Homo sapiens: one gene and its partners. The protein of the gene in region 5 purifies or fractionates together with the protein of the main gene of each other region. This does not show direct contact. Each region holds a gene or a part of one and is shown on either strand. Other genes may lie near its edges.

What was found.
Region 1: the proteins of SV2C (region 5) and MINDY1 purify together in Homo sapiens (affinity purification with mass spectrometry; one large-scale study listed by BioGRID and IntAct). This does not show direct contact.
Region 2: the proteins of SV2C (region 5) and SLC25A21 purify together in Homo sapiens (affinity purification with mass spectrometry; one large-scale study listed by BioGRID and IntAct). This does not show direct contact.
Region 3: the proteins of SV2C (region 5) and ERGIC1 purify together in Homo sapiens (affinity purification with mass spectrometry; one large-scale study listed by BioGRID and IntAct). This does not show direct contact.
Region 4: the proteins of SV2C (region 5) and SLC25A10 purify together in Homo sapiens (affinity purification with mass spectrometry; one large-scale study listed by BioGRID and IntAct). This does not show direct contact.
Region 6: the proteins of SV2C (region 5) and HSD17B4 purify together in Homo sapiens (affinity purification with mass spectrometry; one large-scale study listed by BioGRID and IntAct). This does not show direct contact.
Region 7: the proteins of SV2C (region 5) and ABCC10 purify together in Homo sapiens (affinity purification with mass spectrometry; one large-scale study listed by BioGRID and IntAct). This does not show direct contact.

What each region holds. Positions count from the first base shown.
Region 1 is NC_000001.11:151,000,403-151,003,902, reverse strand, and holds part of MINDY1 (ubiquitin carboxyl-terminal hydrolase MINDY-1), read left to right. Parts: intron 1-934; exon of another isoform or gene 935-1,196; coding exon of another isoform or gene 1,197-1,285; coding exon 1,286-1,738; intron 1,739-2,073; exon of another isoform or gene 2,074-2,120; coding exon 2,121-2,178; intron 2,179-2,588; coding exon 2,589-2,653; intron 2,654-3,287; coding exon 3,288-3,446; intron 3,447-3,500. UniProt on the Homo sapiens protein: Hydrolase that can specifically remove 'Lys-48'-linked conjugated ubiquitin from proteins. Has exodeubiquitinase activity and has a preference for long polyubiquitin chains. May play a regulatory role at the level of protein turnover.
Region 2 is NC_000014.9:36,732,107-36,735,606, forward strand, and holds part of SLC25A21 (mitochondrial 2-oxodicarboxylate carrier), read right to left. Parts: intron 2,468-3,500; coding exon 2,401-2,467; intron 1-2,400. UniProt on the Homo sapiens protein: Transports dicarboxylates across the inner membranes of mitochondria by a counter-exchange mechanism.
Region 3 is NC_000005.10:172,924,751-172,928,250, reverse strand, and holds part of ERGIC1 (endoplasmic reticulum-Golgi intermediate compartment protein 1), read right to left. Parts: intron 1,743-3,500; coding exon 1,682-1,742; intron 1-1,681. UniProt on the Homo sapiens protein: Possible role in transport between endoplasmic reticulum and Golgi.
Region 4 is NC_000017.11:81,715,284-81,718,397, forward strand, and holds part of SLC25A10 (mitochondrial dicarboxylate carrier), read left to right. Parts: intron 1-194; coding exon 195-309; intron 310-409; coding exon 410-458; intron 459-725; coding exon 726-767; intron 768-1,528; coding exon 1,529-1,572; intron 1,573-1,718; coding exon 1,719-1,789; intron 1,790-2,115; coding exon 2,116-2,208; intron 2,209-2,473; coding exon of another isoform or gene 2,474-2,500; coding exon 2,501-2,578; intron 2,579-2,768; coding exon of another isoform or gene 2,769-2,885; exon of another isoform or gene 2,886-3,061; intron 3,062-3,114. UniProt on the Homo sapiens protein: Catalyzes the electroneutral exchange or flux of physiologically important metabolites such as dicarboxylates (malonate, malate, succinate), inorganic sulfur-containing anions, and phosphate, across mitochondrial inner membrane.
Region 5 is NC_000005.10:76,128,383-76,131,882, reverse strand, and holds part of SV2C (synaptic vesicle glycoprotein 2C), read right to left. Parts: intron 234-3,500; 5' UTR 133-233; coding exon 1-132. UniProt on the Homo sapiens protein: Plays a role in the control of regulated secretion in neural and endocrine cells, enhancing selectively low-frequency neurotransmission.
Region 6 is NC_000005.10:119,528,997-119,532,496, reverse strand, and holds part of HSD17B4 (peroxisomal multifunctional enzyme type 2), read right to left. Parts: intron 2,604-3,500; coding exon 2,517-2,603; intron 1,232-2,516; coding exon 1,093-1,231; intron 1-1,092. UniProt on the Homo sapiens protein: Bifunctional enzyme acting on the peroxisomal fatty acid beta-oxidation pathway.
Region 7 is NC_000006.12:43,447,734-43,450,927, forward strand, and holds the end of ABCC10 (ATP-binding cassette sub-family C member 10), read left to right. Parts: coding exon 1-204; intron 205-1,147; coding exon 1,148-1,293; intron 1,294-1,373; coding exon 1,374-1,471; coding exon of another isoform or gene 1,472-1,476; intron 1,477-1,688; coding exon 1,689-1,801; intron 1,802-2,195; coding exon 2,196-2,358; 3' UTR 2,359-2,694; downstream 2,695-3,194. Other genes in the region: DLK2 (protein delta homolog 2), read right to left, coding at 2,806-3,194. UniProt on the Homo sapiens protein: ATP-dependent transporter of the ATP-binding cassette (ABC) family that actively extrudes physiological compounds, and xenobiotics from cells.

The DNA of each region.
Region 1 (3,500 bases), on a different chromosome or scaffold from region 5:
GGAATAGACATAAAACTTTAGGTAGGTGAATGTACAGGAAGTATTGTTATGTAAATTAATAATCAGCATTTTCATATTTCATAGAAATAGCAGGCAAGAGAGTACCTCTGGGTTTAGGTAGTTTCTGGGGAAAAAAAATGAACTGAGGAAAAGTTGCTGTCTCAATGCTAGCTGTCAAGAGATGCTTACTGGGTCCAGGCACCGTGGCTCATGCCTGTAATCCCAGTCCTTTGGCAGGCTGAGGAGGGCGGATTGCTTGGGCCCCCAGGAGTTAAGACCAGCCTAGGCAACAAAGCAAGACCCTGTCTCAGTTTAATTAAAAGAAATTTGATATCTTTATTAATTTTTTTTAAAGAGAAGCTTACTGGAAGAACTTGTGGGGAGTGCTTTTTGTGCCCCTAATCTGAAGTTATTTATCAAAACCAGTCTCTGATTCCAGCCCCCACCACCTACATTTCCCCTCCCAGCTTACAGGAAACCCCTCCCAAGGCCTTTATACTGTGGTTTGGGATTGTGTAAGGTTCAGTAGAGCCCTTTGAGGTGGAAGACTTCCCCTTCCTCACCAGCATTTCACCTTTAGGGGCATGAAACTGACTCTCTGTGCCTCCTCCATTCTTCACCCCAAGTACTATGTGACTTAATCTTTTTATCCTTGGGTGAGGCAGAGAGAAGGTATCCCTAAACATACAAGCACTGTGTATTCTTAGTATGTTGTGTGAAGGGGCAGGGTGTGGGGTAGGGCAGAGGAATTATCTCTGTCATGGCTATGAGGGGGTTACTGATGTGATGCCTATTAGAGTAAGCTAAAGATCATCATATTAATAACCATTAGCGTAGATTTAACATTTCTTTCTCCACCTCTTATCCTTCTTTCTCCTTTGTGCTCTCCCTTTCTCTCTGTCTTTCCTCCCTTCCCTGTCATGATCTGTTTCAGGGAAGCTGACTCCACCCATGTGTTCAATCCCACCAGTCTTCCCTCCCAAGTCTGGAAGCCCCACGACCTCTTGGTCTCATCTGGTCACAGCAAGTTAGAGGTGGAAAGAGCTCAGCACGGGGCCCTTCTGTTTACACATATACTGCCCATAGCCAGGAGTTACTGCACAAACACTAGCCAGCCTTCTACACTACATTCCTTTTCCAAGACTTTTCTGGGTTAGTTTGCTTTCCAGCCCACTGATTTCCTTCTTATTGGACAGGTCACTCTTTTGCATCCCAAGCCTGGCTTAGGCAAGTCCCTGAGGTTAGTAAACACCTTCAGTGCCCCTCAGCCAAGTCCCTTTTGACCATGGAATACCATCAGCCTGAGGATCCAGCCCCTGGTAAGGCCGGGACTGCAGAAGCAGTCATCCCTGAAAACCATGAGGTTCTGGCAGGCCCAGATGAGCACCCTCAGGACACAGATGCAAGAGATGCTGATGGGGAGGCTAGAGAACGGGAGCCAGCAGACCAAGCTTTGCTGCCTAGCCAGTGTGGGGACAACCTTGAGTCCCCTCTGCCTGAAGCTAGCTCAGCTCCACCGGGGCCAACCCTTGGGACACTGCCTGAAGTAGAGACAATAAGGGCATGCTCCATGCCCCAGGAGCTTCCTCAGTCCCCCAGGACCCGACAGCCTGAGCCAGATTTCTACTGTGTCAAGTGGATCCCTTGGAAAGGAGAACAGACACCCATCATCACCCAGAGCACTAACGGCCCTTGCCCTCTCCTTGCCATCATGAACATCCTCTTTCTTCAGTGGAAGGTAAGAGAACATGCAGTTAGGGGTGCAAAAAATATCAGGGAGTACTCTTCCCTGACTTACTTCCTTGATCATCCTGATGTCCTCAAACTAGTCAAAACTTTTCAGATTGTTCTCCCTATTTCTCCAGCTTGAGCAAATGAGATAAGATGTTCCTAAAAACAAAGAAAAAAAAAAAAGAGGAAGATCTGTCCTACCCCTGTATCTCCTACTCCCTAGCAAATGCACATGCCTTGCAAGATTTCACATTCATTCCCTTGTGCCAGTTGCAAGCCTTTTTTCCTACCCCACCCTACTACTGGAGCTCCCCCTTGCCTTTCCATGGGTTCTTCCTTCAGTGCTCTTTGGAGGAAAGCACACACGTGATCACCCCTTCTGCCTCCAGGTGAAGCTCCCCCCGCAGAAGGAAGTGATCACATCGGATGAGCTCATGGCCCATCTTGGTGAGTGACTGGGCGTTGAAGAGGAATTACCCAAGGGGCTCCAGAGCTATCCACTCAGCCAGAAATCCAGACTATTCAGGGATCTCCATTTGGGGGTTCTGATACAGCAGGGAGGGTAAGGGTCTATGGGGCTTCTCTGCAAGGCTGGAGAATGAAAAGCAAAGGCGTCGGGAGTCCTGGGTTGTAACACCAATTCTGCCCTTAGCTTTTGTATCTGACCCTGGGTGGGCCGTTCACCTTTATGAGGCTGTCGCCTCCTCTGAGAAATGAAGAGTCTGGATTAGACTCTAAGTATTTTCCAGCTCTGAAAATCTGTGTTCTGTGACATTACCCGCATTCTCCAGGAGAAGAGGAAACTTAGCTTTTGGGATGATTGGTGGGGTAAGCTGATAAGGGGCCCTGTCTTGTAGGAAACTGCCTCCTGTCCATCAAGCCCCAGGAGAAGTCAGAGGGACTTCAGCTTAATTTTCAGCAGGTGAGGCAAAAGGTCTGCAGGCATAGGGGTTTGCAGGTTTGTAAGGGGACATCTTGTAATACTAAGATAAGCTTTTGTTGCTTCTTCAGAGGTTTCCTTGAACCATGATTTCATTCTGCAGGAGTCAGAGGAGAGTTTATCTTTGTCCTAGAAAATATGTTCATTGGCCGGGTGCTCACACCTGTAATCCCAGCACTTTGAGATGCCAAAGCGGGAGGATCACTTGAGGCCAGGAGTTCGAGGCCAGCCTGGGCAACATAATAATACCCCTGTCTCTAAAAAAAACCATTTTTTTTTTCAAGAATTAGCCAGGTATGGCGGTGCGTGCCTGTAGTCCCAGCTACTCAGGAGGCTGAGGTGGGAGGGTCACTTGAAACCAAGAGTTTGAGGCTGCAGTGAGCTAGGATCACACCACTGCACTCCAGCCTGGATGAAAGAATTAGACTTAGACTCTCAAAGAAAAACAATGTTCATTTATATAAGATAGAGAAGGGTTGAGGCAAGGGAGAAATGGAGTGGCTTGTAAGAGAATCAGGGAAGAAGAGCAGCAAGGTTAATTTTTAATTTCTGCAGGTGGGAGTGGAGTGGTGGGAGAGAAGGCTAGAATCTCCATCATTTTTTTTTCTACCCCCAGAATGTGGATGATGCAATGACAGTGCTGCCTAAACTGGCCACAGGTCTGGATGTCAATGTGCGATTCACAGGCGTCTCTGATTTTGAGTATACACCCGAGTGCAGTGTCTTTGACCTGCTAGGCATACCTCTGTACCATGGCTGGCTTGTTGATCCACAGGTGAGGGTGGGAGGGCCCACTGGGACCTTATCCAGCTCAAGCTGACATGAGAGA
Region 2 (3,500 bases), on a different chromosome or scaffold from region 5:
TCTGAACAGTGGATGTGGGAATTTTCTCTCTATGTATATTTCTTTGTTTCTTTCTTTTAAGTTTTCTTTCTGTTTCTTTTTATATATGTTTCCTTTATTCATCTAATATCAACTGAACATCTAGTATGTGTAGATACTATGATTGGTATAGGTATACTGTAGTGAACTAATTAGCCTTCATAGTTTATAATCTCTTGTGAATTTAGTTAGCATAAGGCAGTCCTTGAGAAACTGCACATGGGAAAACTGGTATTTCTGTATGTGTGAAGCTCAAGACTGGACCCTGAAGCCGGAACCATGGTGCCGCCCATCTGTGAGGGATCAGCTGGTCTCTCTGAAGTCTTCTTTTCCTTTTGCTAACTACAATATTAACTCTGTCTAATTTGTGAAAGGAGAAATTTCATTTATTTAGCATCAGTAAGTCTTATTACTTTAATGATAAAGCTCATTTCAAAGAATAAAGTACATAAAAACTTAAGATTGTCTGTTTCTAATTATGGTAATGATTTTAACTAAAGTGTCAGTACCAAAGAATACACACACACACCCCGCCCCCCTCAGTCTCTGAATATTTTTTTTCTTTGATGACATACAATGAAGCAGTTTATGATGTATGAAATCGTTAAAATCAGGTGATTGCTTTCCTCACAAATCCTAAGATAAATATCTATAAAATGAATGTTTTCATAAATTGTGTTGAAAAACTAGTGCTATCCATCTGGCAAAGATACACTTAACTCCAAGTTATACTTAAAAAGCCAACAAACTTACCATATGTCTCAATAATTTTAAGGTAAAATCTACTTGAAACAAGATGTCTGGGACACATACACCATATTCAGTTGCCCAAAAGTTCATCTGTTAACCATTGTTCTGGCACAGAACATTGCTTTTGGAAAATAGGGACTGACTCTGTTTTATAAAGCTCAACTATTTTTTTCTGTAAAAGATTGCTTAATGTTGATAAGTCTTAATCCTCTTAAAGTTTAAATTGTCTCCAACACATAATATTAAGAAAAAAATATTCCAGGAAAAACTCTAATTTTAGTTTACTTTATCTATACATGTAACTCACTGAACAGATGAGTATATTATTCCATGCAGACAAAGTGACTTCCCTTTTGAACAGGAACTCTGCTCTATTTGTTTACTTGGGCAATCTTTTATCAAGTAAAGCCATTTCATAATTCAATTCAGCTCTTTTGTCTACTTTGGTGAACTTATTCCAGATTCATTACTGTGATTCAGATCCTTATAACAAAATTTGTATTGAAGTGATACTATAAAATCACAAAACCTATACCAACAAAGAGGGTGAGTTTATAGAGAAAGTATGTTCTAAAGCTTTGTTTTCCAAATTCTAGACTTGAATTCAATCCTATTAAATTGCCACTTTGACATCATATAAAGGTTGGATGTTCATGTATATATGTGGGTGATTTTATCATAATTTTTAATCCAGTCACCCTCTTGAACTTACTGAGTAAAAGTATATGAACTGTTCCTTCTTGTCTTTCAGGAGTACTGCGAATACATTTCACACACATGAGTAATGTATGTGAAAAAAAACCTTATGTTGCTTGGAAAGTAAGTCTTTAAGTTTAGGTTATCATTATTATGGAAGGACAAAGCCTTATTTGGTGATGTCAGTGGTGCGGGGGAGGGGAGCAATGCCTGTCAGAGTCGCTATGATCAGGACTTTTGTCTGAGAGAAGACAGTAGTCAGATTGAGTTCTTTTGCCCCTGGACATTCTGCTGGATCTCCCTGTTCCTCTTCAGATACTGAACTAGCAAGTAGTACATAAACCTCTACAGTTATGTGGTTAAGTAAATGGAAATCAGGGTAGTGGAAGTAATAATTTTTGTTAAGAACCAGAATAGAGAATTTTAACAGAGGAGACTAAGGGGGAAAATGAAGTTGGCATTCCAAAAAATTATGTTATATGAGAATCATATATAAAGAAATATGGTATATTGGTTTACTCTGTTCATGAAATGGGAATGATTTAGGGAGAAAAGTTTTCCCTCCTCTCCTCTTTCCTCTTCCCTCCATCTCTCTTTCTTTAATAATTGTTTCTCCAAAGAAAAATTTCTGAGTTGCTTTGAAGAAAGGTCCAAGCTATTTTGTGGTTTGATTACTAGAATTTTATTCACCATGTTGTTTTTTGAATAATTTCCCCATTAGAATGGAATGCTTTTACCTGATTAAAAAAATCTACAAATTGATCTACATATTTGAGAGACTGACCAAGTCTAATTATAATAAAAATTATGCTATAATTTCTGCATTAAAATTTTTAGTGCTTTATATATAATTCATTTTAATGTCTTAAGAGTTTGTTGTGCTGAAGCTGTTACTGTGCCCTACTTTTGCTTGGTGCGAACGCATGCAATGCTTACCTTCACTGCTCTTTTTGGGGTTTCAGCCAAGATAGGTGGCAGAATTCCCTTGTAAAAACCAAATAACCTGTTGGAGAAATAAAAGATTTCCTATGAGTAAGGAAATTAGGCAACAAGTATTTCTGACTTTGTTAAGATAATCCTAAAGTATTCCCGATTATTCAACATAGCACACCAATCATGAAGTCTTCCTTTCATTCTAAAATAAAGAAATAAATTTTATGTCTATTAGCATTATGATATTCAGAAGGTAAATACGTGATACTGAGACAGGAATCCCTTAGATAAGTTGCTAAGCATGACCATTAGTTGTACCTTAACGATGAATCTGACTGTCCTTACTCTAAGGGCTCTTGAGTTTATTTTCTCAGTTGTGTGGCAGGTAGCTTCAAGCTATCTACAGTCCTGCATTTCCTCCCTTGTGGCAACCAAATGAGGTTAGGATTATACCTGAACCCATTAGACTGTACCTTTCTGAGGCTAAGGAGGTGATGAAATTTTCAATTTTAGCTTTACTAATACAAGGGAACTAACAAGCTCTGTGGGTATGGTACTAGAGCTTCCAGCCCCGTCCTGATTTAGTCATAATTTTCAGGCTTCCTTGATGGAAGTGGAAGAAGGTCACAGAGGGCCAGCTACAGGACTATGTATTGCCAACAGAAGAAATGTCAGACTCCCTTGCTGATATGTAAAATCACAGGGCATGAGCCAGTTTACTTTGCCAGTGTTGACGGGCAACATGGTCAGATATTTTTAGAAAAAAAACAAGAATGAGTGACATATGGTTAGATTTATAACAAGTCACCATTTATTTCTTATTATATTTTTAGAATTCAAAATTTTAAATTCCTTTGTCCTGGAATCTTCATATATATGCCATATCTTCATTTCAAACCTTAAAATATATAAATAGAAGAGAATATTATGCATTATTTTCTGAGTAATCACTTTTCCTGATGAGTCCATAACATGTCCCTAATTTAGGATATCCAGCTAACATGGGGCTGCAGCTTCTCTGATTCACCCCCCAAGCTTCACTCCAGCTCCCTTAAACTGGGTCCACTTCTAGCTGTGCTTCTGGGAACAAGAAGTTGAGAATT
Region 3 (3,500 bases), about 97 Mb from region 5:
TAGCCCTGGAGAAGGCAAGGTTTTCTGTCCACACCCTCTCTCTGCTTGCACACTCTGGGCCTTCTTAGCTTGATCCTCTTTCCTGTCCAGCAGCTGAGGGTCCATCGTAGCTGCAGACATTTGTGGACGGCCGACGTCGGATGACATGTTACCATGACACAAAACGACAATGACCACGGCACCACACCAAGAATCATCTACCTCTATTACAACCAGACATTTGCACTCAAATAAGGAGGTGCTGCCGTATACTTATCCGTTGCTGGAGGCAGCATGAATGGGAACCAGACACAGCTGGAAAGCAATCGGGTAACAGAGCGCCAACCCTGTACATATCAGAGGCATTATTGCCACAGTGAAACACAGGAAACGACAGACACTTTCGGTGAGAAGACAATGACTTAGAAAAGCAGAGCAGAGTGGGGACAGATCACCTGAGGTCAGGAGTTCAAGACCAGCCTGGCCAACGTGGTGAAACCCTGTCTCAACTAAAAATACAGAAAATTAGCTGGGCATTGTGGCAGGCACCTGTAATCCCAGCTGCTCGGGAGACTGAGACAGGAGAATTGCTTGAACCCGGGAGGCTGAGGTTGCAGTGAGCCGAGACTGTGCCACTGCACTCCAGCCTGGGTGACACAGTAAGACTCCGTCTCAAAAAAAAAAAAAAAAAAGCACAGCAGAGCTGCAAGATGGACAACTGTGCTCCCATTACAACTGGAAAGTAAGAAAATCGTGGCTATGTAATAAGGTCAAGTACAAAAAGCAGACGGTAAACTGCAATCCATGCCTTGGAAAAAAAGAAAAGTGAGTTCTGCTTATGGACAAGGACTCACAGGGACACAGAAAAATGAGGTTCGATTTGTCGGGGGGGCAGGTCACAGAGGGATGTTTTCTTTGCCTTGGATCCCTGACAATGGGAGAGCAAACGCATTTCAGGAAATAATAAGAAAAGATGTGGGTTAAAAGGTGAGCTCAGGTGAGGAAATAAGAAAAATCCAGGTACCCTGTGCAGCAGTGGGTCTGCAGGTCTGCTTGAGCACACAGGCCTCCCGGGCCCATTCTGTGCACGTGTCTGGGGCCATGTGAGCTCATGTGTGTTGGTGTGCACGAAAGGTATGCGTGCTCTCCTGTCTGCGTGTGGAGATGTGCGGTTCTCTTTGATCTGGGCCAAGGTGCCAGGGAGCTAAGGAGGGCGAGGACTCTAGGAGGAGCCACTATCGATGGGAGGAGTCTGAGCAGGAGGAGAGTGAGGTGTGGGGGAGGCAGCCATGTGGTCACAGCTGACTGGGCCACCCACAGACCTGTTCTCACGGTGCGACCTGGAGGCAGAACAGATCCTGGTTCTGCCATAGCTCCCTGTGGGATCTTAGGTAATTAGTTCAACTAAGGATGATGATGTGGCTGTGATGAGAGCAACAATAATGGTAATAGCTGGTATCCACTGCGTGCGTGCGTCTGCTGTGCCCCGGGACAAGCCTTCTTCCTTCTCCATCAGGGTCTGGGTCTGGACGGGGCTGGGTCCACCTTCCCACTGGTTAGCTGTGGGAATGGAGTGTGAGCAGCAGCCTCCCTGCCTTGGAGTGGGTGCTGGACAGGCACCCCCACCTCTCTGCCCTCCCCCTCCCTGCCTGCTGTACTGGGCATCTTGGAGCAGAAGGCTGTTCCCAGCAGGGATACATACGGTTGGAGGTGAGTCTGTCTGCTCCCCCGAGAGCATTGAAAGCTCCGTGGATGTTCTGGACCTGTGGAAAAATGCAGTGAGGGGATGGTCCCCAGGACACCTCCACCTCCAGGCCTGGCCCTGGTTGTGGGGGATGGCCAGGTACCACCTGGTCTAGGAACCCTACCAATGTGTAAAAGGGGGCTCCAGCGGATTTGTGGGGAGCAAGAGGCAGCAGGGGCCTGGCACATAGTAGGCACAAGCTTGTTTCCCATCTCTAGCCCCTACTATGTGCTGCTCCATCCTGGCCCCTTCATATAATTTCATTTCATGCCCCTAATGATGTATTATTGGGCCCATTTTACAGAAGAGCAAATCAAGGCTTGGAAAGACACCAAAACTTGCCCGGCTGGTAAGTGGCTAAGCTAAACTCTGAAATCAGGTCTGTCTGACACTAAGCTGGACTCTTTCCATGAAGTCACACAGAAAATTCAAGTGAACATGGATTCTGGGTCCCAGAAAGTTTCTCCTGAGATCCCAGGGTCCTCTGAAAGGCCCATAGAGGAGTCCAGGCAGGGATGCCCCAGAGCTGTGGGCCCCCCATCATGTCTGCTGCAGAGAACGTATAGCAGATGTGAAGAAAACCCTCCTCCGGGCAGTGGGGTGGGCTGCTGTAGAGTAGGGCTGAAAACCACATCTCACCTTTTCTCTGAGGACAATGGGAAACCAGGTTGGCCTCAAGGAACATCTAAAGAAGGACAAGGCATACCTGGTAAATGGAGCATGCTACCATGGGCATGGTTAACAGGGGTTATCGAGCTAGACACCCTGGAGGCCTTCCTGGAGGAAATGACATTGACACCAAGATCTGGAGGAAAGTGGGAAGTTAAACTGGCAAGCAGCATGTACAAAGGCTTAAGTATGGAGACAGGCCCACGTGGCCCCCAGGAGGAAGGAGAGTGAGGTGTTTGAATAGAAGGAAGGAGGAGACATCGGAGAGGTACGTGGGGACATGATTCTGTGGCCACTCCAGGAGCAGTGGGCAGCAGCGGGGTGGCATAATCCCTGATCCTGGTCTCAGGCGGCTGATGTTTACTGAGCACTTAACACACCTGCATGTTCTCAACAAGCAATTCCTCAACAACTGGAAGGAACTGCAATTTCTCAACAAGGAAAAGGAAGTTTGTCTATTTGCTGTCTTGAGACTGACCGTGTGAAGGCTTCATTTCTAACCCATGAGAACGGTGGTTACAGAGACAAGAAGGCTAGAATGTTCTCTTCCATTGTCATGTGACATGGCTTTATCTCACATTTATTTGTACCATTTATTTTTATTTTTATTTTTTCTTTTTTTGGGAGGAGTCTTACTCTTTCTCCCAGGCTGGAGTGCAGTGGCATGATACCAGCTCACTGCAATCTCCACCTCCCAGGTTCAAGTGATTCTCCTGCCTCAGCCTCCTGAGTAGCTGGGATCACAGGTGCCTGCCACCACGCCCGGCTAATTTTTGTATTTTTAGTAGAGACAGAGTTTCACCATGTTGGCAAGGCTGGTCTCAAACTTCTGACCTCAAGCAGTTCGCCCGCTTCAGCCTCCCAAAGTGCTGGGATTACAGGAGTGAGCCACCGCACCTGGCCTGTACCATTATTTGATCAACATCTGTCTTCCCCCCTAGACTGGAAGCTCCAGGTGGGCAGGGACCATGTTTGTCCTCACCAAGGTATGCAAGGCCTGGACACGGTAGGTACTTTGTAAATATTTGTTGACTAGATGGATGGACAGAAAATGAATGGATGGATGGGCCCTAAGCTAAGTTCTGTACATTTTTTTAAAAAAATCAGA
Region 4 (3,114 bases), on a different chromosome or scaffold from region 5:
CAGGGAGTGAGAAAGCAGGGTGCAGCTCTAGATTTGTGAACTGGCTCAGCCGCATGCTGGCACAGTGGCCTTGGGAAGGCCCCTCAGGGTCCCTGTGGCCCCTCGGGCTGAGGGGGATCCCTGGCTGGGCCGGGTGGCGAGGCTGAGGGGTGTGGGGCGTGCCCGTCCCTCCAAGCCAGGCCCTTCTCCCCCAGATGACCTACTCCCTGACTCGGTTCGCCATCTACGAGACTGTGCGGGACCGTGTGGCCAAGGGCAGCCAGGGGCCTCTCCCCTTCCACGAGAAGGTGTTGCTGGGCTCCGTCAGCGGTGAGCTGCCGGGCGGGAGGGGGAGGGGCGCGGGGTGGTCAGGTCGGCCGAGGACGCCGTGTGTCAGCACGGCTCATCTCTGGGGTTTGTGTCACCGCAGGTTTAGCTGGAGGCTTCGTGGGGACGCCCGCAGACTTGGTCAACGTCAGGTTGGTGTTCCCCCACCCCACCTGCAAGGCCAGGGGCTTTCTTGTCCCCAGACATGCCAGGGCCTGCCAGGGCTGCTTGCAGGGTGGGGTCAGCCTGGAATAAGCCACTGAGACCCTGGTGTCCTGGGCATAGGAGGGTGGGTGTCCCTGAGCCCCGGCGTGCCCTGTCCTGTGGGCCCCGCTGACCAGCGTGAGCTCCCCTGTGCTGCCAGGGCTGCCCATGCCCCTCGGCCCGCCCGCCCCTCCCGCCACCTGCTTCTGTTTCAGGATGCAGAACGACGTGAAGCTGCCCCAGGGTCAGCGGCGCAAGTGAGTCATGGGCGGCCTTCTCGGGGTGGTTGAGGTGCAGGAGGCTCGGGCGGGAGCGGACCCCTGGCTGCTCTGCCGTGACCCAGCTGAGGCTCCAGCAGGCCGAGGTGCCTGCACGGTCCATGGAGGGTCCTGACGGCTGTTCTGGACTCGGGGGTGTCACTCTGCGCCCCCAGGACCTTTGGGTTCTTCCTGTGGGGAGAGCCTTGTTGGATTGGGGGCTGGGCCTGTTTGCACCCCAGGGTGGTGAGTGCGGAGGCGAACGCCCCAGGCATGGAGAGAGCGCATGCAACAGAAACGCCCGAAGGAGGCGCTGCCTCCCTGCCCAGCTCAGGGCAGCTGTGCCCTCCTGCCACGGCCTGGGGTCTTTCCAGGGCCCGGGGTCCGCTCCAACTGCAGTGTGAGCCACTTCCCCCGCCCCTTCCAAGGACCCCTGGGGAGTTCTGGCTTCTAGCTGTGCACACAGACTGTGTTCCCCCAGGACCCCGGGGGCTGGCGGGCAGGAGGCCTGCATGCTAGGAGCGGTGCCCAGCCAGGGACTCTGTTGGAAACGATGGAACCTCCTCCCTGAGGGCCGGGCGGGGCGGGCGAGGTGGCTGTGGGACGTCAGGACCAGCTTCATGTTCCCAGGGAGAGATCTTCAGGCCCATGAGGCCTCTGCTTCCTCGAGAACCCCCGGCCTGCCTCGGGGCCTGGGAGGACCCTCTGTGGGAGCCGGTGGTCAGGGGGAGTCTCATGTGGTCATTCTGTGTCCCCGGCAGCTACGCCCATGCGCTGGATGGCCTGTACCGCGTAGCTCGTGAAGGTGAGGGGCAGGTGCTGTGCACAGGCAGGGTTCTGGGGGGCAGGCAGGGTGGGCAGCGCTGTAGAAGACTGGGCGCTGAGGGATTTGGGCCAGGTGCCTGGCCTCACCCCTTGCCTCACCCCTTGCCTCACCCCTTCCTTGTGCAGAGGGTCTCAGGAGACTGTTCTCGGGTGCAACCATGGCATCCAGCCGAGGGGCCTTAGTCACTGTGGGCCAGGTAGGCCTCCTGCGTGGGGTGGGTGTGGGCAGTGCCTGTGACCACTGACCTCCATCTTCAGAGGGGCCATAGAACAAGGCACTGGGCGCCAAAACCCTCCTGGGGAGCCACCAGCTGTGACCTTGTGGGGCAGGGTGGGGGGCACGGGTGGGTCAGGGCTGCAGCCTGTGAAGGACCTCGGGCAGGTGCCTCCCCTGTCTGGGCCTCACGGACGGACAGACGGAGCAGGTGCTTGGCCATTGCCAGGTGGTGTCGCCTGGGGCCCTGTGTGCTTTCCCCAAGCTGGGGTCCCCCCTACAGCCCTGACCGCCCTTGTGCCCCTGCAGCTGTCCTGCTACGACCAGGCCAAGCAGCTGGTCCTTAGCACCGGGTACCTCTCTGACAACATCTTCACTCACTTTGTCGCCAGCTTTATTGCAGTAAGTGGCCGGCATGGCTAGGGTGGGCGTCCCTGGGCCGGCCTTGGGCGCTGAGGGCACCCAGGATGGGGCGAGGGCTGGGGGAGGCGGGGGCCTTGGGCATCTGGCAGTGCCCCCTGGGGCTCATAAGTGGGGTGCCAGGGCTTTGGGAGCTCATGGGTCAGCCTGGTGCCCCCGCCAGCATGTTCCTGGCCCGCCCTAGGAGTCAGGTGGAGGTTCTGGCACGTGGGTGGGATTCGGCGATGGTGCCTGGCGTACCTGACAGGCCGCTGGTGACGAGCCCCCTCCTCAGGGTGGATGTGCCACGTTCCTGTGCCAGCCCCTGGATGTGCTGAAGACTCGCCTGATGAACTCCAAGGGGGAGTATCAGGTGAGTGGGGCCCTGCCTGTGCAGTTGGGCTGCACAGCCCAGCGAGTCCCCTCACCTCTCCGGGGGGTGGACACTCGCACTGGGGACCCGGGGAAGGGTGTCCCTCCCTTCTAGTTGCCTGTCTCTGCACAGCACTTGCCTTGGGAGAGGGTTGTGCCTTTGAATGCCTTTGCCTTGTTTTTGTTTTTAGAGAAGACTTCTTGGCCCGGCGCAGTGGCTCATGCCTGTAACCCCAGCACTTTGGGAGCCTGAGGCAGGCAGACTGCTTGAGTCTAGGAGTTCAAGACCAGCCTGGGCAACATACTGAAACCCTGTCTCTACCAAAATTACAAAAATTAGGGGCCAGGTGCGGTGGCTCATGCCTATCATCCCAGCACTTTGGGAGGTCGAGGCAAGCAGATCACCTGAGGTCAGGAGTTCAAGACCAGCCTGGCCAACATGGTGAAACCCCCTCTCTACTAAAAATACAAAAAATTGGCTGGGTGTGGTGGCGTGCGCCTGTAATCCCAGCTACTCGGGAGGCTGAGGCAGGAGAA
Region 5 (3,500 bases):
CCTCTGGGTGTATTCATCCTGGGCTCGGTCCACAGCTTGATTCACCTTCTTTACTGTTTGTTTCTTCACCTCTCTGGCAATGTCCTTGGCACCCTTCATCAGTGAAGTCCTATCCTTGTAAGAGTCTTCCATCTTATCTCAACTGATGGCCAATGAGAAGATGGGAAATTTTCACAGCCTCCTTTCAGTGGTTCAGCTCTGACAGCATCATCCACTTTGGGTTCAAAACAGAACTGCGAAAGAAGAAATAGAGGAGATACTTATTATTCCTTTCTATATATATATTTTTTACCGTCTATTTCTTGACCTCTTTTCAGTGTCCCACAAACTACAACACAGAATTAGTTTTTCCTTTTTTTTTTTTTTTTGATCTCACTGTATATACATGTACACCCTAGGCTGCTTCTCTGCTTAAGTGTGAGCATCACTTGGAGTATTTAGGGTTTTCGCTGCTATTATTATTGTTTTATTTTAAGGAATTCTATCCCCAGGGTAACAGTACACAGGAATTCCCCTGAGAATAAAACAGAGCATCTTGCATCTTTAAAAGCACGCCCAACACATTTTGAAATGCTACAAGCATATACCTTGATTGAGAAAAATAGTATTGCTCACAGACACGTACAAATATTGCAAAGACAAACCAGAGTATTAGAAGAATCCTACTGGGCCTATTTCCTCACACTGAAAAGCAAGCAGCCCCATATACAATTGCTATCAATCAAACTATAGCTATATTTGTAAAATTGAATTTCTCCCCTACTTAACATTGTGTTTCCTTCCAACAAATGGTAACAGAGACTCACATGGCACCCCAAACTGGCAAGGAGTATATTCCCATAGCATAGTGTCATATCCACAGGATTGTCAGAGTTCATCAAATGATTTTATGGCTGCATTTGATATTGAATTAGAACATATGGCTTGTTTGGTGGGAGTCTGCCCTTTCAGAAACTACCCCCAGGCCTTCAGGGACAGGTAAGCTCCATGCCATGTCCCTTCACAACCCCACTTCTATTTTCTTCATCTCTGGATACCCAGTACGCACACACACTCTCTCTCTCTCCCTCTCTCCCTCTCACATCCTCCCACCTGCCACTCTGGTTAGCTGCTGTTTTGGTAGTAAAGTCTGGACCTTCCAGGACCTGTTATTTGGTTTTCTTTTTCACTGATAGTCCCCTCATGCCTTGGTTCCTTAAATTCAGGCTGACCTCAAGGTAACTTATATTCCATTTGTCCACTCAGCTGCCTCTTCTGGTGGCTCATGTGAGTCACTGACAGGTTCATCCTTGTACACAGATGATAACAGAGGTTAAAAAAGTCTTTCTCCCCCATCATTAACTCCCCAAGCCTTAAGCTATGGCAGCATTCCAAACATTGATTTATATAATCGTCATTTCTACTTTTTCATTTTGTAGCTAGTTTAAAATATTTAAAGTAGCTATTACTAACATACATTTAATTACTCCTCCAAATGCCACAAACAAACCCAGCAATAAAGACAAACAGATGTTTGTTTATAAATGGACCATGCTTCATTCCCACTGAATACCTACAAATGCCCAGTAGGCAAAACAGGAGTATGGTTCTCACAGGCTGCGTTTTGGAAAATGATAAAATGAAATTAAAATAAACATATGATTGCAAGGTTTTTAACCAAATGTTTTAGTAAATGATTTTTCTGTTTGTTCTCCCCCAGCTCTTTTTTTTTTTTTTTTTTTTTTTTTTTTTTTTTTTAAGAACTGAGAGGAAGAGAAAGGGAGGAAGAGAGACATGGGAAAATCCATGAGAACAGTAAGAAAAAATGGAAAGGTGGTGAGAAGGGAGGCTGAGGATGGGGTGCTCAGAAACTCAAGAAGTCAGGGAAAAGGGGCAGAGAGGACAATGATGAAGTTGAGAGACATTTCCTACTTTAAAAATTAACAGAAAATCTGAATATTTCACACAATAAATAAAATAAACTGCCATCCTATCCATTGAACGGATGACCACATCAGACACTGCATATCAGCTGCTTCCTGTACATAATCAGCTCCAGAAATACCATTAAGTGAGCTCCAAATTCTGGTTAGTTGAAAGCAGAGTCTGAATGACCCTACAGCACTACCCCAGTGCCTTTCATAATGGAAAGCTTCTGCCATAGCTGTTTCCAAGAAATTGTATATCAACTGACTGCATTTGGCTTTTTTGCTTTTGTCCTCAGCCACAGGTATCCTTACCACATGCTTTACAGGGTTTTCATCCCTAAAGAGGTCCTTGTATAGGAGCCACCTCTGTAAGAGGCAAGAGGTATGATATCTTAAATGTCATAGTTATGGCTGGAAAAGTGGACAGTTCTAATCCCCTAAGTAGTCTAAGCACTTGAGCAATGAGAAATAAAATAAAACAAGAATTTTACAATTAAACATTCCAATTTTGAAAAAATTCTTGCAGAAATCTTAGTTTTAATTCCAGGACAAAACAAAGGATGTGCACATATAAGTTCTCTTTTTGTCTTTCAAGATTTCTCATCCCCCAAATCGAAGCTCAGGTAAGTTCCTTGAGGGAAGAGACTTGTTCTTTAGTTTGTAGTCTTACTAAAGCAAAGAAGATTTTTCTGTGCCCTTTCATAAACAAGAAATATGAATACTTATTCAAAAATGCTATATAAAATTAGATGTTTGTAGATATTGCCATTGGGGTTAGCTGGTGAAGGGTACAGGGGTCTCTCTGAATCATTCCTTACAACTGCATGTGAATCTACAGTGATTTCAAAATACGGAGTTAAACCAAAACCCCAAGTTTGTACTATCCTTATAAAGCCATCTTGGAATATGTGCAGGATGATTGGCTGGGGGCAGACTGTTCAGGGGCAGAGTTATAATTCTATGGCTATTATCTCCCTCTGGTAAATGGAAAAATGTGAAGAGCTTGGCTCATTCCAGATATTGCCAGGAAAATGGCAGATTTGTATCTACATGGGAAGGTTATGCTTGAATTAAAGCAGCACTTCTCAAGGGTGGGGCTTACACACCGGGTGTGGCCTATAAGAAGGTCCGCAAGCAGCTGTTTATAGCATCATCAATATTTTCTTTTGTTTCTCGAATCGATTATGGAGTTATGCCACATAATATATGTCAGACTTTGTTTCAATGAAAAACAAAACAAACCACCTTGATTTGGTGCTTACTATATGTCAGGCATTGTGCTAAAAACTTCCTGTACATTGTTTTATTCTTTTATTTAATCTTTACTTCAATCCTACAAAATAGACATTATAGTCTTCCATTTTACAGATGAAAAATTAAGGCTTAGAGAGATTAGCCCAAAGTCACAAAGCTTGTTAGAGGAGATGCCGGACTCAAGCTCAAATGTGTCTGACCCCAAAGCCTTACCCCTTATCTTCATCTGCCTCACCCAGTGGTCTCACTGAGGTCTTATTAAATGCAGTGGCCTTCTTCCTAGTCATTCCAGTATTCCAGTAACTTTTTTTCCTACACTAAAATTGTTTTATAACCGCT
Region 6 (3,500 bases), about 43 Mb from region 5:
TCAATTTCAGAACCTTTTTTTTAAAAGGCAGCCATACTATTTTCTAAAACTATGCTTTCTACATGGCTTTTAGCACTCATTCCAACATATACAGAATCAGGCTAGTTATTATGTGTTATTGACTATACTAGAAGCTAGAAATAGACAAACTGCAGCCATTTCTCAGGATTAAGCCCAAAGTCAAATGAGAGAAAACATACAATTATAAATGACCATAATACAGTAAGATAACTGTGACAAGCAACAGACTCTGCTGAAAGGGAATTCAGGGACTTACTGCTCTACCTCCTATCCATTTTCATCTTTTCAACCTAATTGAAGAATCTCTAGGAAAATAAAGGTGAGGTTAGAATATTCCATAATTAAAGTGTGTGCCATGATTAAGGATGTGAGTTACACAGCAGATGCAAAAGATCTGACAGAATATTTTTTCTTTATTCTTTTTATCCTCTAATTTCTCTTTCTTCACAAAATGGTACCAGGGTCTCTTTGGACCTCCACATCAGTGAAAAGAAATATGACTGCTTTCTTTCTGCGGCAAGATGTTTTATATTGGGTGCATGGCACTCTAATAGATAATTTCCCTAGATTAGATAAACAAACACCTTTGACCATAATCTGTATATATCTAGAAAATAGTGATTTTATATTGATAATTAAGATAATCCAAATTATTGTTTTGGTATGAATAAAATAATTTTGTAACTGTCAAATATCATGACTTAAAAATACTTCATTTTGACTTGATGAATTTGCCTTATGTTTAAGAAGCTGAAGATTAGATAAAGATGCATATAGCCAAGATGACTGTTTAAACTACTTTCAAGGATTACAATGAAATCTTAAAACAGGTTATTTTCATTTCAATTGATTCCCTACATCTCTTACACACACACACAAACACACACACACACACACACACACACACCCCCCTTTGGACATTCCCAAACCTATTCATTCCCACGGGAAAAGAAAAAAAACTTACCTAAAAAGGTAAGATTTACCTACCTTCAAAGGTCTTTAATTGTTAAAAAGATACTTTATTTACTAAGAATTACCTTAGAATATTATAAAATCAGGGCTATAACTTACTCCACTTAGCCCCAATATTTCCGCCTTTGGTTATATGCCACTCAAATACAGCATTTACTTTCTTCACCACCTCAGGCCCAATATCCTTTAGGCGGCGTCCTATTTCCTCAAATACAAAGGTACTCTGAAGCTTCCCGCCCTAACAACGACAACAAAATAAACTTTAAAAGTTCTGTAAAAATAACTCATGGAGAAAAGTGATTATAAAACATGTGCAAAAAAAAGATTTTTTAAAACTCTGTACATAAGTCAGTTTTCTTCATACAATGTGTCTTTCATACTTTCTTATTTGTATACATCACTCAGAACCTCAGTCCTCTTAATAACAGGATTTTACTTTTATTAGAATTCAGAAATAATATTTTAAAAGAAAAATAGGAACTGGACAACCTATGTTTTAGCTAACTTTAGAAAGATCCTGATCAAATTAATCAACTTCTATGGTCTCATTTTTTTTATTTATAAAATAATACTAAATTACATGAAGTCTGAATTTCTTTACAGCTCTAAAACTTAAGTTTTGGGTTTTTTTTGTTTTTTGTTTTTTTTTTTTTTTTTTGAGACAGACTTGTCGCCCAGGCTAGAATGCAGTAGTGCAATCTTGGCTCACTGCAACCTCCACCTCCCGGGTTCCCGTGATTCTCCTGCTTCAGCTTCTTGAGTAGCTGGGATTACAGGAGCCTGCCACCAAGGCTGGCTAATTTTTGTATTTTTAGTAGAGATGGAGTCTCACCATGTTGGCCAGGCTGGTCTTGAACTCCTGACCTCAAGTGACCTAACCACTTCAGCCTCCCAAAGGGCTGGGATTACAGGCGTGAGGCACCGAGCCCGCTCTAAGTTTTTTTTTTTCTTAGACTATTCTTAAGGGATTTTAATTTTCAGTCAGTTATATGGTTTATGACAGACAATTAAAGATCATGGGTATCGAAACCTCAACATTACAAAGTTAATATTTCAGAGATAGAATATAAACATTTTTATCAAAAGTCTCAGCATGCTAATAAATAATACAATGTTTTAATAAATTATACACGCTGCTGGTTTATATATTTGCATACAAAACTTTATATAAACCTTTAAATCAAGAAAAAGGTACAGGATATTCAACTTTTTAATCTATTTTTCTCCAAAACGCTGTTTGCTTAAGATTCTGATTAAACAACTGATTTATTTATTCTAAAACTAGAAAATTATGTTCTCTTGAAAGATATCCTAGTATCCTGCAAAACGAGTTTTTTAAAGTTCATAAATTGCCAGAGTATTCCTTCTATTCCAAGCTGTTTTGAATTAATGTTTTTCACTTCAAGAATTAAGAATAGTTTCATGGTTGTTAATTTTCTAACGTAGCCTAACCACTCTTAAAGTCACCTTAACTGAAATTCCTAAATGAGGAAGTGGCTTGGATACTAATTTTTATAACCTACCTCAGAGGGTGTCTTAGCTGAAGTACCAGATGTTGGTGCAAGATCCACATATGCATTTGAAATGACAATGTCTCCAGTTTCTTGGACCTTAGGAGGAGAAGAAAAAAAAAAGATTTATTCTGATTACAATGGAAGTGTAATTTCACTGTGAAACAGTACAAAGTTTAAAATTTATTATTTTTGCCTCATATGAAAAAGAATATAATAATCCAGATAAAATAAAAGGCTGCTAAAGTAAATGTCAAGATGAACAAACATAAAGGCTTTCTGATTTAATACAACTGTTACTAAACCTGGCTTTATAATCAGCTGGAGCCCTTTAAAACAAACAAACAAAGAAACCCTATGAGGTCCCATCCCCCAAAATTCTAATGTAAATACACTGATAGAGACTGGGCCTTGGTATTTTGGGCATTTTTTGGGGGGGAAGTGGGGATCAGGGGATGCACTCTTATAAACAGAATTCAGTCCATGCTGAATCCTTATAAATAGTAAAAGGCATAGCACAATAGCCACATGAGGTAATGGTACTCAAAGTACATTTGTTCTGCTAATATAGAATAAAATTGGCTAGGAACAAATCATAATAGTGTTTTTTAAGTAGTAATTCCAGGTCTTATTTCAAGAGGAAGTGTACACAGCATGAACTAAATGTCTAAATAGGCTTTTATCAAAATAGTCATTAAAGGAATTCAAATTCTAATTCCCAGTCCTTCATTTCAAATTATTCCAATGGCTATTCTTTCATAAAAATTGTTATTGCTACAAATGTATAGGATAAGTTTCTAAAGTTTAACATAGCGTTTATTAAAACTTTGATTTTTAACAATCAAGAAGATCATTCTCTTGACTACATCTCATCATATTTTGGAGGAAAAAAGATCTTTCAAGTAATTTGTTCACTTTACTTCAAATTACATACATTGAAAAGCATGGAAAGAGATAATTAATGAACAAAATGCACTTCAGTAAATTACTTTATTG
Region 7 (3,194 bases), on a different chromosome or scaffold from region 5:
GTTGGCGTACCGGCCAGGGCTGCCGAATGCCCTGGATGGAGTGACCTTCTGCGTGCAGCCTGGAGAGAAGTTGGGCATCGTGGGCCGCACAGGCTCCGGCAAGTCTTCCCTGTTGTTGGTGCTCTTCCGGCTGCTAGAGCCCAGTTCAGGGCGAGTGCTGCTGGACGGCGTGGACACCAGCCAGCTGGAGCTGGCCCAGCTCAGGTCTGGGGGAGATGGACTTGGGAGGGGAAGGGGGAACCAGAACTACTGGCACTTAGAGGAGGGCATAGCCAGGAAGGCTTTATATAAACTCACAGCAGCCAGGGCTGATCAGGGGGCTGAAATGGAGGACAGGATGAGCAGGCAAGGACAGCGAACTCCTAGTGCCCAGGTCCAGATTCATGGCTGGTGATCTCAAGGTCTTCCTCGCCCTGACCCAGGCCACCTTTCCAGCTTCATCTTTCTTGTACTTCCTACCATACACCCTCCACTCTTGTGCCCCAAGATACTGATCCCCTGAGTCCTAGGCTCAGCAGGCAGTGCTTCAGACAGCTTGAGACCTGAACCGGTTGCCCTTGGCTTCAGGTGGCCTCACTGGAGGGTATACAACCCTTCCTTACCTCCAGGTCAACCTAGTATCATTTTCTCTGAGTACGGTGACATGGAAAAGGTAGGGAAGCTGTATCCTAAAGCCCTAGGCCTGCCTCTTCTGCCTTCTCTTCTAAGCTGTGGTGGCCCTACCTTATAGCTCCATCATGTCTTCAGGACCCAATTCTAGGCCCACTCCAACCTTGAAGTGTCACCTGCCCTTTCAGTCGCTCTGGTCATTCCCTGCGTAGCCACTGCCACCCCTGGAGTCAGTGCCACACAGTTTAGCCCATTTGTTTTGTCTGGTTTGTGTGTGTGCACCTCCGTGAAATGTAGGCACCTTGAGGACAGAGTCCAGCCTTTGGTTTCTTTGGTATTGCTCATAGCACTGGCACAGTTCTAGGTACCCAGCTACTAACAGATCATTTGGTGGGGATGGGGTGGGGAGCAGAGTGGGGTTATGTTCAGGTCTCATACCCAGGCTTTCATGGAGGTGCTAGCCCTGTAGTCAGAAACTGAGCTGGGAGCAGAAGTGGCTACATCTCCAACCACTAGACTCCATGTCATTGTCCCCCAGATCCCAGTTGGCTATCATCCCCCAGGAGCCCTTTTTGTTCAGTGGGACTGTTCGGGAAAACCTGGACCCCCAGGGCCTACATAAGGACAGGGCCTTGTGGCAGGCCCTGAAGCAGTGCCACCTGAGTGAGGTGATTACATCCATGGGTGAGTGCTGGACCCTGACCTTAGAGCAAGAAGGGAGCAGGGATGGCCTGGGCCCTGCAACGAAGATGCTTTCCTTGCAGGTGGTCTGGATGGTGAGCTGGGTGAGGGGGGCCGGAGCTTATCTCTTGGGCAGAGGCAGCTGTTGTGTTTGGCCAGGGCTCTCCTCACAGATGCCAAGGTAAGGTGAGAGAAAGAGACATTAGAGAGGGCCAGGAAGAAGGCTGGGGGCCGGGAGGTGGGGAGGTAGAGTGGGGAGAGGTTTTAGGGGACCAAGTTCATTTTCCTTTTAGAGCTGGAAGTGGGGAGCTGTGGTAGGGGCTGTTGCTTGGGCCAGGCCCAACCCACCCTGCAGCCTCTCCTTCCTTCTTATCCCCTACCCCATTCCCATATTCCAGATCCTGTGTATCGATGAGGCCACAGCAAGTGTGGACCAGAAGACAGACCAGCTGCTCCAGCAGACCATCTGCAAACGCTTTGCCAACAAGACAGTGCTGACCATTGCCCATAGGTATGTAAACGCCTGGTAACAGCCTAATCAGGGACTGTGGTAGCATGCACCGAGAGCCTCCGTTGCTTTCAGGGACCCCAGTGGTCAGGGCCTTAGAGATCCTGCCCCCCCAGATCTCAGCTCCTCCTTCTCCAGGGACGAGAAGGGTCCTTTATAGCACTGCCTAGGGCCCTTTATAGCACATTATCTGAGGGCCCTTTATAGCACTGCCTAGGGCCCTTTATAGCACATTATCTGAGGGACTCTGCAGTCCCTTCCCCAGCACCAAGCCAGGGGCTAAAGCCTGTGGGGACAGACCTGTGGTGTCCCGAGGGGAGAGGAGGGAAAGCAGGTCAGTGTTCTTACTTAGGGCATTGTCCCTCATCCCCTACACTGACCATCTTCCCCCTCACAGGCTCAACACGATCCTGAACTCAGACCGGGTGCTGGTGCTACAAGCGGGGAGAGTGGTAGAGCTGGACTCCCCGGCCACCCTGCGCAACCAGCCCCACTCCCTGTTCCAGCAGCTGCTGCAGAGCAGCCAGCAGGGAGTCCCTGCCTCACTCGGAGGTCCCTGAGCCCAATCCCACACCCTGCAGAGTTCTCCCCTCTCTCTGATCCAGGCCGGGCCTATACAGAGGTGCTGGCTGCTTGTTTACATTCTCCTCTGGGGCTCTACCTCTCCACACTTCCCCAGAAGGGAAAAGGGCACCCTGGATTACTCTTTGGAAATCACTCCTTGGTGGGCAGCATCCTGAGGCTTCCCCAGAACCAGGCCTCTGCTCTGGCCCTCTTGCATCTGGAACGCCAGGTGGGTTTTTCTGGCATAGGAGCCCACTTGCATTTTCATAGTTTTATTTGATAAAATTCCATCTTACATTCTGTGTATTAAAAAAATAATATTTCTGGTGTGAGGCTGAGGTCTCCTCTGTGTGTGTACCCAAGCTGAAGGGTGGTGAGAACGGACCACTCCAGTCTGAGGGGTGGAAGAGGTGAGGAAGGGGGCCAGAAAGCCCCCACCTCCATCACAGTGCTGTGGTCTTTCCAGGCTCAGGGGGCAAGTCACGTGGCAGGGGGAGCCCTGCTGGCAGCATGCTAACCTGACACTCCTGGTCCTGGCACGCTGGAGCATAGTGTGGGGCAGGGTAGCAACAGGGTCCAGGGGGGCAGACACCCCGGCGCCAGGCCCTCAGGGTCAGCAACACAGTAGCCAGAACCAGGGCAGCAGTGAGGGCCCCAAACACCACCAGGGCCACCAAGCTAGGCTCACCTAGCCCAGCCTCTTGCCTCCGCACCACCTCCTTCACTGAGATCCGCAGCAGACCAGCCCCTGCGCTGTGGGGGGCTGGCCCCGTGGCAGGTACCACTACAGCTGAGGTGGGCCCTAGAGGGGTGTCCACTGTGGTTGGGGGGT